4 linked regions of the Homo sapiens genome follow. The protein of the gene in region 4 purifies or fractionates together with the protein of the main gene of each other region. This does not show direct contact. Each region holds a gene or a part of one and is shown on either strand. Other genes may lie near its edges. The genes, in order: VIPR2, ADGRG5, TUBGCP6 and MZT2B.

What was found.
Region 1: the proteins of MZT2B (region 4) and VIPR2 purify together in Homo sapiens (co-immunoprecipitation; one large-scale study listed by IntAct). This does not show direct contact.
Region 2: the proteins of MZT2B (region 4) and ADGRG5 purify together in Homo sapiens (co-immunoprecipitation; one large-scale study listed by IntAct). This does not show direct contact.
Region 3: the proteins of MZT2B (region 4) and TUBGCP6 purify together in Homo sapiens (affinity purification with mass spectrometry; 3 studies listed by BioGRID and IntAct, with this or other methods). This does not show direct contact.

What each region holds. Positions count from the first base shown.
Region 1 is NC_000007.14:159,110,355-159,113,921, reverse strand, and holds part of VIPR2 (vasoactive intestinal polypeptide receptor 2 isoform 1 precursor), read left to right. Parts: intron 1-3,567. UniProt on the Homo sapiens protein: G protein-coupled receptor activated by the neuropeptides vasoactive intestinal peptide (VIP) and pituitary adenylate cyclase-activating polypeptide (ADCYAP1/PACAP).
Region 2 is NC_000016.10:57,559,622-57,563,188, reverse strand, and holds part of ADGRG5 (adhesion G-protein coupled receptor G5 isoform 1 precursor), read right to left. Parts: intron 1,134-3,567; coding exon of another isoform or gene 1,096-1,133; coding exon 1,032-1,095; intron 806-1,031; coding exon 730-805; intron 99-729; coding exon 1-98. UniProt on the Homo sapiens protein: Orphan adhesion G-protein coupled receptor (aGPCR). Ligand binding causes a conformation change that triggers signaling via guanine nucleotide-binding proteins (G proteins) and modulates the activity of downstream effectors, such as adenylate cyclase.
Region 3 is NC_000022.11:50,220,977-50,224,543, forward strand, and holds part of TUBGCP6 (gamma-tubulin complex component 6), read right to left. Parts: coding exon 3,535-3,567; intron 3,445-3,534; coding exon 3,356-3,444; intron 3,281-3,355; coding exon 3,165-3,280; intron 1,617-3,164; coding exon 1,478-1,616; intron 1,127-1,477; coding exon 1,052-1,126; intron 899-1,051; coding exon 1-898. UniProt on the Homo sapiens protein: Component of the gamma-tubulin ring complex (gTuRC) which mediates microtubule nucleation.
Region 4 is NC_000002.12:130,188,201-130,191,250, reverse strand, and holds the end of MZT2B (mitotic-spindle organizing protein 2B), read right to left. Parts: intron 2,745-3,050; coding exon of another isoform or gene 2,665-2,744; exon of another isoform or gene 1,527-2,664; intron 783-1,526; coding exon 625-782; coding exon of another isoform or gene 560-624; 3' UTR 524-559; downstream 1-523. UniProt on the Homo sapiens protein: Required for the recruitment and the assembly of the gamma-tubulin ring complex (gTuRC) at the centrosome.

The sequences.
Region 1 (3,567 bases), on a different chromosome or scaffold from region 4:
TTCTCTGGTATTTATTTTATTTCTAAACAGCATACTTATGCTCCTGTTTCTTTTCTTTCTTCCTCCCAATTTACATCCCAGTGTCCATTAGATTTCTAACAAGAATAAAGATCTATCTCTCCTGTGCCATTCCCACCACCCAAGTATAATTTATCATCCTGCCAGCCTCCTGATAGACTCACTTCACATTGCTGGTGTACATCATTGCCATCACAGTTGAGCCACATAATATCCAGCATTTCCTTTCTTCATAACTTTATGCTTTTCCTCGTTTTTCTGTTGCTGGGTTTTTCACCTACCTCTCAATAATTAGGCATCAAACCTCAGGCCAGAACACTCTCAAGACACTGCACTGAGGTGGTCTCAGGGTTCCATTTTTTCTCTTGTAGCAGGACGAGCTGCAGACAAAACCCCTCAGACACCGAGATGGTGAAGGGAGTGGCTTTAATCAGCTGGAAGCATTGGCAGACTAGCGTCTTAAAATCCGAGCTTGTCAGGTGCACAATTTTTGTCCCTTTTAAGGGCTCACAACGCTAAGGGTTTCACATGAAAGGGTCATGATTGATTGAGCAAGCCAGGGGGTATGTGACAGGGGCTGCATGCACGGGTGGTCAGAGTGAAACAGAACAGACCGGGAAGTTTCACAGTGTCTTTCTATACAATGTCTGCAATCTATAGATAACATCAGTTGCTAGGTCAGGGGTCAAATTTTAACTACCAGGCTTAGGTCAGGCAGGTCCAGGCCTGGTGTCGGGTCTGGTTCCTAGGCGCTGGGCTACCTGCCTTTAGTTTCGCTTCTGTTTCCTTTTCTGAGTATAAAACAATCTAAAACAATGTGAGAGGGTCTGTCTCTCTTCTCTCACTCCTAGAGCCACTCCTTCTGGATTCCCCCTCCTTGCCAAGTCGGGATCCTTGAGCTGGGGTCTGGCCCCAGGCAGGCATTGTGAGCCTCCTGCTCACACAGTCGGGGTCCTCGGTTGGGGATCTGGCCCCAGGAAGGCGCCATGAGCCTCCTCCTCACGGTCAGGATCCGGTCCCAAGTAGGTCCCGTGAGTCTCCTCCTCACAGTCAGGGTCGGTCCCAGGTAGGCGCCGTGAGCCTCCTCTTCACAGTCGGGGCTCTCAGCCGGGTCCCGTCCCAGGCAGGCGCCATGAGCCTCCTTCTCACAGTCAGGGTCGGTCCCAGGTAGGCGCCGTGAGTCTCCTCCTCACAGTCAGGGTCGGTCCCAGGTAGGCGCCGTGAGCCGCCTCCTCACAGTCGGGGCTCTCGGCCGGGTCCCGTCGGTTCCCTGCAGCGTCCTCCACCCTTGCCGGTGCCGGGGGTACCGATGGCCTGTCTCTCGCTTCTCCCCCTCCTCTGCCTGCCTATTTAACACAGTTGCTTCTGTCTGCAAGGCTGTAGTGACATCTCTTGGTGCTGCCCTTTCAAATTTTTGGCTGTCCTTTGCGTGAGGTTGAGAAGCTGAGAGAGAAACTCCTGTGTTCCCGCCTGGCAGCTGTTGCCAGGAGGTTGCAGCCAGTGCCACGTGTGCGACCGGCACTGTGGCAGCGCTTCCGGCTGCGCCTTCGGCTGCACTTCCGGCTGCTACCTCAGCCTCGGCGCCCTGACGCCCTCGAGTCCGCTTCCTCACATCCTGACAGCGTCTAGCTCTGCTCCCTCACGTGCGGTCCAATAAAGGAACAAATGAAGAGAAGACTTTCCCTGGCCATTGAAGGGATCAGATGATTAGCTCTAGATGTTTAAATCAAATCCTACTGTAATGCAAAGACTGTTTGATGTGGTATGAATTTAGTATCTCTGTTGAAATTTAAAGCAGCAATTAGTATTATACAGTATATAATTATTGCATTATAATTTGTATTATGTATTAGTTATCTTACTATACATTATCTTATTTATTGTTTATTTATTGAGACGAGGTCTCGCTCTGTCGCCCGGGCTGGAGTGCGGTGCCATGATCTTTACTAACTGCAACCTCGACCTCCCAGGCTCAAGTGATCCTCCCACCTCAGCCTCCCTAGTAGCTGGGACTATAGGCATGCTCTGTTACCTCCAGCGAATTTTTAAATATTTTCTGTAGAGATGGGGTCTCGCTATGTTGCCCACGCTGGTCTTGAAGTCTTGGGCTCAAGGGATTATCCCGCCTCAGCCTGCCAAAGTGTTGAGATTACAAACATGAGTCACTACACCCAGCCCATTATTTTAAAATAACAATATTATATAATTATTGCTTTTTTTTTTTGAGACGGAATCTTGCTCTGTCACCCAGGCTGGAATGCAGTGATGCGATCTCGGCTCACTGCAACCTCCACCTTCTGGGTTCAAGCAATTCTCCTCCCTTAGCCTCCTGAGTAGCTGGGATTACAGGTGTGTACCACCACACCCGGCTAATTTTTGTATTTTTAGTAGAGACGGGGTTTCACCATGTTGGCCAGGCTGTTCTCACACTCCTGACCTCAAATGATCCACCAACCTCATCCTCCCAAAGCGCTGGGATTACAGGTGTGAGCCACCACACCCAGCCATTACTATTATCAAGGTAGAAATTTGTCATTTTGTGATAAAAAGCTGAACCTTCAAAATAACCAGACACGAAACTGCCAGAGCTTGCTGTTTTATAGGAGATGGACAGAACTTTGCTGATCACATGCAGAGTCTTCACTTGGAGGCCTAGACATCTTCACTTTCCTCTCCATCTTGTTCACTCTTGGCTAGGAACCCCATCCTGACACCTCTCCACCACCTGCCCTACACACCAGAGTTAGAAGTGCTTGGTTTACGAACTTAGCATTTAAATAACTCTACTACTTAGACTCTAAGCAGCCTTACACGGGGGCTCACGCCTGGAGTTTCTAGTGATGCATTTACATTTGATCACTTGTTTTGAACATTTTAAAAGAAAACCAACATTTTCTTTAAATATGTTAACATTAATGTAATATGAATTTATGTACTTATTCAAGTATTGGTATGTAATTTTATTTTATAATAAATATATTTTCACTTTTATTGAAAGTATTTAGAAACTATTTTCATCTGCAAAACTTAGCTTATGGCCAGCTTTTCAGAGACATTTCTGTATTCTTGAAAGTAAAACACTCCTTTGTTCACACCAAAGCTGTGTGTTCTCTATGGATGTATTCCTGCAATTATTGCACAGGTCTGGGTGGCATGTGCTGAAAGGAAAACTGATTGTTTGTTTGTTTGTTTGTTTGTTTGTTTGTTTTACCGACCAAGGCTAGCACATTGCTTTTCTGATACTGAGGTTTAAGTAAAAGGTAAAATTTTAGAGGTCTCAAATATAGTATAAATACCATGGACAAGTAGGAAAGTCCTGGGTTTAACATGCATTCCATCACTGTTGTGTGATATTGAGAATTCATTAAAAGATTTGAACCTTAGTGCTTTTCATCTGGAAGATAATTAATGCAACATTTTTATATCTAACCTTCACCAGGTGGTTATTAAGACCAAATAGTAGGTCTAAAAATGTTTAAGCTATGCATTATGCAAATTATTTGACAACTCCATGAAGGTAACCTAAGATTTTGTTGCTAATAAGGCATC
Region 2 (3,567 bases), on a different chromosome or scaffold from region 4:
GCTTGAAGGCCAGAGACTGGATGGTGGGTGTCTGCAAGGTCAGGTTGTAGCCTGGGAAGCTGGTGTTCAGTAGCATCTGCTCCAGCTGGTGGAGTTGACTGCAGCCCAGAGAGATGGCCAGGGAGGCCAGAGCCCGGAGTGGGGTAAGGGTGAGAGGGGGCTGTAGACAGCCTGGGAGGGCAGGGCCTCCCCACCCACACCTCTGTCACACGCACCTCCAGACCACTGCACACACAGTGTCCTTGGCACACTGTTACCTCCCTACCCCATCTATCCCCTCCTCTTGATTAACTCCTGTTCAGGTCCCAGTTTATTGTCACCTCCTCCAGGAAGCCTTCCCTGACTGCTCCCTCACAGCTTCCCAGTAGCCACTCTTAGCCCTGACCAGTCTTCAGCATTGGCCGCTCACCTAGAGCTGCTCAGTCTTTGGGTCATAGACCCTGGAGAGCCCAGCCAGAATCTTAGACCCCCTTCCCAGGAAAATGCATGGAGACCCATAATTCTGCACTTAGTGTCATGACATCTATGATTAAGGGCCCCCATTCCTCGATGATAAACTTCATGAGGGCAGTGACATGCCCATCCTGCATCCCCAGAGCCTAGTGTCAGGCATGCAGTAGGTGCTCAATAAAAGTGCTGAAGAAATGCACAGTTAAGAGTCTACATTAGACTAACCCTGACCCACTGATTCAAGGTGCAGGCTTGGGGTGGGAGGCACATCCAACTCACCGAGAGGAAAAAACTGAGCTCCGGCCCCTGGACACCTGCATATTCTCCATGTAGCTCAGGAGTTCTTCCCATGTCTCTGTGGGGACACACCTCCCCCTCAGTTTGTGTCTCAACTGCCCTCTGGCCCCACAACCTCTGGGCTTTCCATCCCACCCTGAGAGTCTAGTTCACAAGCAGCTCCTGCTGCCCCCAGGAAGCCTAAGTGGCCCTTTTCAATCTCCCATGGTTTGACGCCTCCCCCTTTTGCATCACAGTCCCACGACTGGGCTAGGGCTGCCCCCAGTTCAGCAGAGCCCCCTTACCTGTTGTTGCATTCTGCAAAGTCAGAAGGCACAGGCACAGGAAAAGGGCACCACAGTGATCCATGCCCTGTGCAGAGTCTCCTCCAAGAACTGGCTCCGGCCCTGAAAAAGGTGCATGCCATCACCATGATGATAAAAGAGCAACCTCTAACTTCTAGGTGTCTGGCATGTCCCAAGAGTAGGACATGCAGCATCTTATTTGACTCACCACTCCTGCATTTCACAGATGAGGAAGCTGAGGATGAAGGGCAAAGGGTCTTGCTTTACTTAAACCTGCCTAAAGCCAGGTCTCTAAGACTCCAGAATCCTTGACCACCAAGTAATGGCTGCCATTAGCAGCTCCGCCTGATACACTCCCCTTCCCAAAAAGCAGTCTTTCTGGGGGCTTCCCCAGGATCCCAGTCTCTACCCAGGGGGACGGTGTTTGGGAGAAAGCAACAGGTAAACCCCATCCAGCCCTGCCATTAACTCATCGTGCGGCTTTGGGTAGGATCTGTCTCTCCTCTGCCCTCATTTTCCTCCATTTTAAAATGAACTAATAAACTTCTGCTTCAATAGAGCAAATTTATGTCTGCCCCTTAAAGCCCCACTAAAATGAGAGGGAATGAATAAAATAGGCACAAAGCCACAGAACAATGGGAAAGAAAAGAGGCATGAAAAACAGTACAATGGGGAAGAAAGGAGGCACAAAGCCTCTCAGGAAGCTGCTGGAGGATGTGCTCCAACAAAATGAGAGAGTAAATCATGAAAGAAGACACAGGGTACAGGAAACCCTGTACCCTACCATGGGAGAGGTAAAGCTACTCCTTAGAAAACAGGCACAAAGACAGAACAATGGGAAAGAAAACAACTGCAGAGATGGGAGATGTCAGCTAAATTTTGGAGGCTACAAGTAGGTGGCACCTGGTAAGACGTTTAGCAGACCAAAAAAAGTTGAACCCAAGTGCCTGCAGTGGGGAGAGGTGTGGTGTTGGCAGGAGACAAGGAGAAGCCTCACAACCTTGGAAGCACTTGAGAACTGGGGGCATCAGTAACCTCTGAAGAGGGGATGAAGGAAGAGGCTAAAAACAGCGATTGTTGGCCAGGCATGGCGGCTCATGCCTGTGATCCCAACTCTTTGGGAGGCCAAGGCAGGAGGATCGCTTGAGACCAGGAGTTCCAGACCAGCCTGGGCAACATGGCAAAACCCTGATTCTACAAAAAGAAAACAAAAATTAGCTGGGTATGGTGGCCTGCACTTGTGTCTCCAGCTACTCAGGTGGGTGAGGTGGATCCTGCCCAGGAGATGGAGGCTGCAGTGAGTCAAAATCATACCACTGCACTCCAGCCTGGGCAACAGAATGAGACCTTGTCTCAAAAAAATAAAAAATAAAAATAAAAACAGAGTTTGTTGGTTGTGAGTCTTTAAAATGCCCAACTCAGTCCCCAGATCTCCCCTGCCACCTCCAGTATTCAGGAGTTTCCTCACCATCCTACCATCCCCAATCCTGCTCCACACAAAGTTTACTCTCTGGAGAGAGGATGCACCATAATCAGAACAGAAGGGGGAATTAAGCAATATCCCCTCCCCACATCCTCCCCCACTCAGATTCCAGAAGACTGCAGCAACCAGGGTTATGCCCCAAGGCAGGAGAAAAGTCTCTGAGGAGCTAACCATTCCAAGAATAGTATCCTATAGCTACTTCCATTTTTGTGTTCCTCAATGTTATGGCCAAGACCTAACTTACAGTGAAATTTCACCAGTCACCAAGCTCTGCCAAGCAATTAGGTTTTTAGTGCTCCTCTCTTGAATGGTCAACCAAGGATTACTGAGAATTTCAAAACACACATCCTTTCTTGAGAAGCTGCTGGAGGATGTGCTCCAACAAAATGAGAAAGTATATCATGAAGGAAGACACAGGGTACAGGAAACCCTGTATCCTACCATGGGAGAGGTAAAGCTACTCCCCAGAAAATGTGTGAAGGGAAGGCCCGGGTTGATGCTGAACAGCAGGACTAGGGCATTTCCCATCCGGAGGGAGCAGGAGAAAAGAATGCCCTGGGAGGGAGGTCTTCAAGAAAAAAATAAGGAAGAGGAAAAGGAGAGTAGATAGACTATCGAATAGGTTTGAACATCTAGAAAAATTGTTTTTTGAGATGTCTTACCGAAGTTTATAAATGCAAAAATAAAAAGAAGCAATTAATTTCAAGAAAACCAAGTTGTACAAGAAAACGAAATGCCGCTACATGATTTAATATGGAATGTAATGCATATAGTCATAATAGAAACATTGAACAGGAGTTTTTTTAATTGTGTAAAAACCATATTAAGATGATTTCGATTTCCACCTAGAAAGTAGAGAGTCAGATGGGAGTATTGTTCCCATCATAACAATGGGAAAGCCAAATAATATACAAAATCTTTTTTTTTTTTAGCCTACTGGAGAGCTGGGGTCACAGGCCACCAAGCAAACTGGTTTCTGGAGGTAACTAGAACACATTATCTTTGATGGATGAAACACATGATCTGTTTCATGTTTGACAGAGCACAGAGGAA
Region 3 (3,567 bases), on a different chromosome or scaffold from region 4:
TGGTGGGAGCCACATCTGACACATTCTCCCCGACCCTGATGCTGGCGTTGGACACATGTCCATGGATGTTCCACCGTGGCCGAGTGGGAGCCACATCTGACACAGACTCCCCTAAGCTGATGCTGGCATTGGATACGTGTCCGTGGGTGTTCCACCGTGGCTGGGTGGGAGCCACATCTGACACATTCTCCCCGACCCTGATGCTGGCGTCAGACACGTGCCCGTGGGTGTTCCACCGTGGCCGGGTGGGAGCTATTTCAGAAGCGTAGTCCCCTGTGGGAAGACCACCCCCTGACACCTGCCCAAAGAGCCGCTCTGTGGGCTGGCTGCTCCCCTCCTCCAGAGCAGCACGCCTGGGTGGGTGTGAGGGGAGCAGAGTCTCCCGCGAGGCGGAGCCACAGGCATCCATCTTCCCACAACTGTCCTCCCACAGCTGTAGCCCTGAGCTGCCCAAGCTGCACTCTGCAGCCTGCAGGGGCCCTGGTGCAGGTGAGGTGGCCACAGCTGGCCTCAGGACAGTACTAAAGTCGTACTCCTGTGGCCTGGAGGGCTGAGTGCTGGCTGCTGCGGGTGCCTCCCCAGGAGCTGAGGGGGGCAGGTCCAAGTTAATGGTCTGCAGCGCCACCTCCAGGAGAGGGACCATGCCAGTCTGCACGGACGGCTCAGCCCCTGGGCCCACAGGTAGGAAGTCTCCAATGCTGAGGCTGTCAGAGAAGGGTCTGGCCCCCTCCGCCTGCTGCAGCCCCCTGCCACCAGCCCCCACTGCTAGAGGCTTAAGGGGCTGTGGGGTCAGCAGGCCTGGCCTGTTCCAGCCATCCCAGGCAGGCGAGTGTTGCTCTGCAGACCCAGAATCACAGCCTTGGCCTCCCTCTGGGTGCTCAGGGCCCGGAGACGTGACCTGAAACACAGGTGACATCAGACCCAGTCTGGTCTCAGGACCCCCCAGCCCTCGAACTGTCCCCCAAGTTCAGCTCTGCAGCCATGACCAACACCAGGTGCCGAGGGCTATGGGAAAACCATAGGGCACCCTGGGTTCCACTCTGCCGCTTACCTGGGGGTGCACGCTCAAGAGGACGTCTGGCGGCTCCTGGGGCTGGTGAGCCTCAGACACTGCTTTCAGCATCTCCTGAAATTCAAGCCAGAGGGGTGACTGGCCAAGCCGGAGTCAAGCACAGCCCTACCCCACACAAAGCCACAGCCCCTACCGCCCATGGCAGCCATGTGCACTGAACCAGACAAGGCTTGTGCTGGGCTCCAGTGGGACGCTGGGCCTGCAAAAAGTACTCCAAAACCACGAGCTCCTCACCACCTGTATCTGTGCAATTTGGTGGCACACGGGGAGAGAGAGTGCTCTGCCGCAAACGCGAAAGCCACCAGCCCTCTCCTAGAAGAGCATGTAGGTTTGTGTGCAGTCTCAGGGGGTTTCCAGACCCCCAAAGCCCAGGGGAAGAGCTGCCATCTGAAGCCGCAGACATACCTGAATGTGTTTCTCATCTTCTAAGAGAAAACGAAGCCGTGCACTCTCCAGTCGGTGCCTCTGGATTCTCCACAGTGCCTTCTGCTCCCGACGAGCTGCCTCTGCAGAGAGCTTGCTGTAGTGGTCGACCAGTGCCTGCCTGAAGCCACACACCAGAGAGGACACGGCCACAAGAGTCACCCCACCCCATCTACCTGGCACCCCTCAGGCCAGGATGGTTCTCCATAACAGAGGCCCCAGTGGGCCCCCGCCCCCGTCTCCCCCTACCAGGGGCTGATAGCTCTGGGCCCTCACAGCACCTACAGGGCAGCACCAGGCAGGCCCTTCTACCTGCCAGGCTGGGAGACCCTGGTGAGTCAGCGTCCAGCCAGGGCTCAGCAACATCTGCTGGACAAATACCAGAATGAGATCCTGTGTGGCCTGAAGCAAGGGGTGAGCAGGAGGCCGAGGGCCCCAGGCCTCTAAGAAGTTAGGCCTCTTCCCCTTCTACAGGTACAAACCTGAGAACTGAAAACTAATGCAAAAAAGCACATGAAGCAAAACCAACACAAACGCTTTATTTGCTGAATTCAAAGCCTGCTTCACCGATCGTGCCCCATGATTTTGAGCTTCTCACCAGCAGGCAACTGGGCTCAAACCTGGACTGGCCAGCTCTAATTTGGCTGCCACAGGCCAGAGACGTAGTGTCTAGGCCTGGTTTTCTCCATGTGTTAACAGGACAGTATCGACTGACATACATGCATGAACACGTACTCATGCATAAATGCATACACGGACACACGTGCACACAGGCACGCGCACCCCTCCACACACATCCCTCACTCGCTCCATAAAGAGATCTAAGGTTGGGACCTACAGCATCGCGTGGGGCTGAGCAGGAAGCGGCCAGCCCCTCCCGTGAGGGGCTCTCTCCAAAACCCCAAACAGCCCCTTGAAGGATCCAGCACTACTCAGCCTGGGACAGCCTGATGACAGCACAGGACAGGTTGATAACAGCACAGGGAGACAGACGCAGATGCTGTGCTGGACAAATGCCCTGTCTCAGCCGAGCGCGGTGGCTCGCGCCTGTAATCCCAGCACTTTGGGAGGCCGAGGCAGGTGGATCACCTGAGGTCAGGAGTTTGAGACCAGCCTGGCCAACATGGTTAAACCCCGTCTGTACTAAAAATACAAAAAACTAGCTGGATGTGGTGGCGGATGCCTGTAACCCCAGCTACTCAGGAGGCTGAGGCAGGAGAATTGCTTGAACCTGGGAGGCGGAGGTTACAGTGAGCCGAGATTGTGCCACTGCACTCCAGCCTGGGTGACAGAGCAAGACTCTGTTTCCAAAAAAAAAAAAAAAAAAAAAAACGCCCTGTCTCTGTCAGACCAATAACAGACTTAAAAATAAATAAGGAAGGATGTTCAGAAAGAAGATAAATAAAGAGACAGGACCCCAAACAGTACGCAGGCCTCGCCTGGACCCTAATCCATACAAACCACCACAAGACAACGCGCAGAACAGCTAAGGATGCCTGGATAAGGCAGAACGCCCACAGCCACTCTGGGTTCAGCATATTGGTCTTTCTACCTTAATGTATGTTTGAAGGTTTTCAAAACAAAAAGTAAAATCATCAGTAAGATTAAGCCAGAGCTATGGGGCCCCTGCCGCACTGCACCCCTGGGCCTGGAGCCCGGGCTGCCCTACCTCGCCTTCCTCTCCAGCTCCTCCTCCAGGGACTTCAGCCTTCTCTCCCTGTCTCGGAGTTCACGGGCGTAGCTGAAGTCATCATCCAGCTCCTCCTGCCTGGCCGCCTGGCGTCGCTATAAAACACATAGAGCCTGGCCTGTGAAATCAGAACTGACAGGCGTGACCCCGCAGGGACAGGTCCTACCCACCTCCTGGTCCTTCACAAATTGTTCTTTCAGCCTCTGAAACTGCTCACGCTTCCGGGCATCCAAGGCCATCCGTTCTGACATCTGCCGGTCTACATTGGGACAGTAAGGGGCGCACTGTCACAAGGAGGCCCCAGCAAGGCCCCCCGGAACTGCAGAAGGGAGGACTTGGGGCCACTCACCACTCAGTGCACTCAGGACCCTGGATGCTGCTT
Region 4 (3,050 bases):
TCTGTGCGCACACACAGCCACCCTGTCCCTCAGCACTGTCAACTGCCTTGGTAGAAAACCTCCCATGAGGTGGGAGATCGAGACCAACCTAGCTAACACAGTGAAACCCCGTCTCTACTAAAAATACAACAAAATTAGCCGGGCGTGGTGATGGGCACCTGTAGGCCCAGCTACTTGGGAGGCTGAGGCAGGAGAATGGCGTGAACCCAGGAGGCGGAGCTTGTAGTGAGCCGAGATCGCACCACTGCACTCCAGCTTGGGTGACAGAGCAAGACTCCATTTCAAAAAAACCAAAAAAACCTCCCACATTTCACTTCAAGTGAAGCTTGTTGACGTCTATTTATAAAAGACCTGGCAATCCAGATGCCTTTTCTCAGAACCCAAATCAGGTTCAGGAAGTTGACCCATGGTGAAGGGACCTGGTTAGTTCACTGTGGCACAACCAGGACCGGCACAGAAACTTCATTCTAAGTGTGCCTTAATATAAAAAAAAAAACAAAAAAAAAAAACGGTAGACAACATCTGACCTGGACCCTCTGCATCTCAGAAAGGTTTATTATCAATTGAAGGAGGTAACATGTAGCCTTTGCTGGGGACAAAGATGCAACAAGTCTCTGCCCCATCCTAGGTGCTGCCCCGTGTAGGGCTCTTCCCAGGCCCGCCCCCCTTGGGCAGCCTGGTAGCGCTGGGCTGGCGTGGCATCCTCTGGCTGGATCCTTCGCGGCTGCTGCGTTCCGCCAGGGCCAATGCTCCCCCGAGGGCAGCGCTGCCTTTGTTTCTCCCTGAGGAGACACAAAGCACAATGATTAGGAATGGGCGTGCCCCGTAACTGCAGCACCTGCTGTACTCGTGGTCCTTGGGCAACATTTGTGTCTGCACATTTCCATCAAAGTCCCTTCAGCTAGAGGCCCTGCATCAGCCCCAAGTCCTGAGACTCAGAACCACTAAAGACAGGTCACGCCCCAGAAGCCCTTCGCAGTGTGCAGGGGACCCTTTTGGATGTGTCCTAGGAGCAAAGCCATGCAAGGAGCACACTGCCAAGGGAACATTTTGAAAGGACACATGCCACGGGCCCATTTAGGGAAAGGTAGGTGTGCTGGTCCACACCTAGCCTGGTCAGCAAACCTAGTCTGCCCTGATGGTGCCATCAGCGGCGGCAGCAGCAGGGATGCGCTGCCTCATCCTCAAGGTGTGTTCATGCTGGACTGCACATCTGAGCTGCCCTAGATGGTGACAGGCAGGAAGTACTGCAGTCACCAAGTCCTGGAATTGGGTTTCTGATTTTGATTTTGGAAGCTCTTTCATTGTTTCCTACCTACCCGAGTGTTCTGCAGTGGTCAAGCCTCTTGCTTTCGGGTTTAGCTGCCAGATTCCATGACAGGGTTCCTGCCACAGTCTGAATGCTTGAGACTTTCCTTCTGACCACCAGAGGCTCTCTTGGATGAAGACCACTGGTTCAGAGTTTCTTTGATTTGTAATTTGCTTACTTTACTCTTTAAGATAGCCAAGAAAAATCTGCAACCACACTTGGGCCAGACCTTTATTTTAATGGGATGGATTTCCCTGGGCTCAGGGTGTTGACAGCATCGGCAAGACTGAGAGGACCCTCCAAGGTACAAACGTGCCCGGGTAGCAGGCTTGCCCGTGGGGTCACAGACCCCCATGTGGAGTGCCTTGGCCAGGGCTCTCCCCTGCTCTGGCCTGGCAGGGTCTGGCCTGTGGGCTCTAAACAGGGCATGTGTCCCCTGCCTGACTCAGTGTTGGGTCCCCCATTTCATCCCCCCAGTGTTTCCTTTGTCCTGACTGAGGAAGTGCCTTGACTACTCTGACCTAATCAGCTACATGTTCCCCCTGCAGGCTCAAACCCTGGCTGGGGCTTGCATGTTACCAGACACTGATACACGTTTAGGTTGTTGCCTGGAACACTGAAAGATCTGACATGTTGCTAAGCACGTGGAAACTGGTCCCACCCCAGCCAAATTCCTTGCACCCTCATAGAAACTCCACACCCCACCCCCTCAGTGCGGTGTGCCTAGGCACAACCTCTTTCCTGGCTGTCCCTCGTGAGGGTACACTGCAGCCCCCTCTGTATGTAAGCTCCCTAACAAATGCTTTGGACTGACCACCCTGGCATTAAGTGTTTCTTCCTTTGGAATCCCAACTGGCTCTCATCCTGGAAAGGTTTGGGGCAGTCCCTTGCAGGAACTCCCCTGCCATCACTTTTAGGGTGACTCCAGACAAGGGTTCAGCCAACAGAACACCCAGCCTCAATCCTGGTCCTTCCCTGGCCTCTTATCAAGTGTAGTCAAATACCCTGCAATGGGAAACTGGATTCCTGGAGAAAAGATGCAACCGGGTGTCTAGAGATCCATTAGGTCATTTCTGTTTCACCATCTGTCACCCTGAACAAGCAGAGACTCCTGTGTCTGAGATGCCGTGGACCCCCGCTCTTCCAGAGGTACCTCCAGCTCCCTTTCTATGCTAATACCAGAAAATTCTCCCCATACCCTGCAGGGATAGGACGGCCCTCCTTTTGAGTTTCCGGGGAGTTCTTCCTCAGAGAATGAGATCTTTGCTCATTCTTGCCTGGTGGTGGTGAGGGTTACAGCGGTGTCATGCTTGGAACTCTGTCAGCTTGTCACACTTGACTCAACAAAGATGGAGTCAGGGTTGCCCTGAGCCAAGGAGGAGCGCAGTCAGGAACACGTGGTGGGTGATGATTGGCCACCTCAGCCCAGCAGTGACTCGTGAAAAAGGCACAAAGCAGACAATAGCCACCACGCATCTCTTGTGGTACAAACTGCCATAATTCTAGTCCCCACTGACTGGTCAAGGGGCAAGGATTCTGTCTTCCATGAGCAGACGGGCCCCGCCACCCTGCAGCAGCTCCCACACTGGGCCAGCATCCTCCTCTGAGGCCACAGTCCCTCCGCAGGCCAGGCCAGACAGAGTCAGATCTTCTGTAGCCGCAGCCTAATCTGGGTGCTTAGGTGCCCATGCGCTCTCAGCTCCCCACAGCACGCAGCATGGCAGGCCGCAGACTTGGGCCT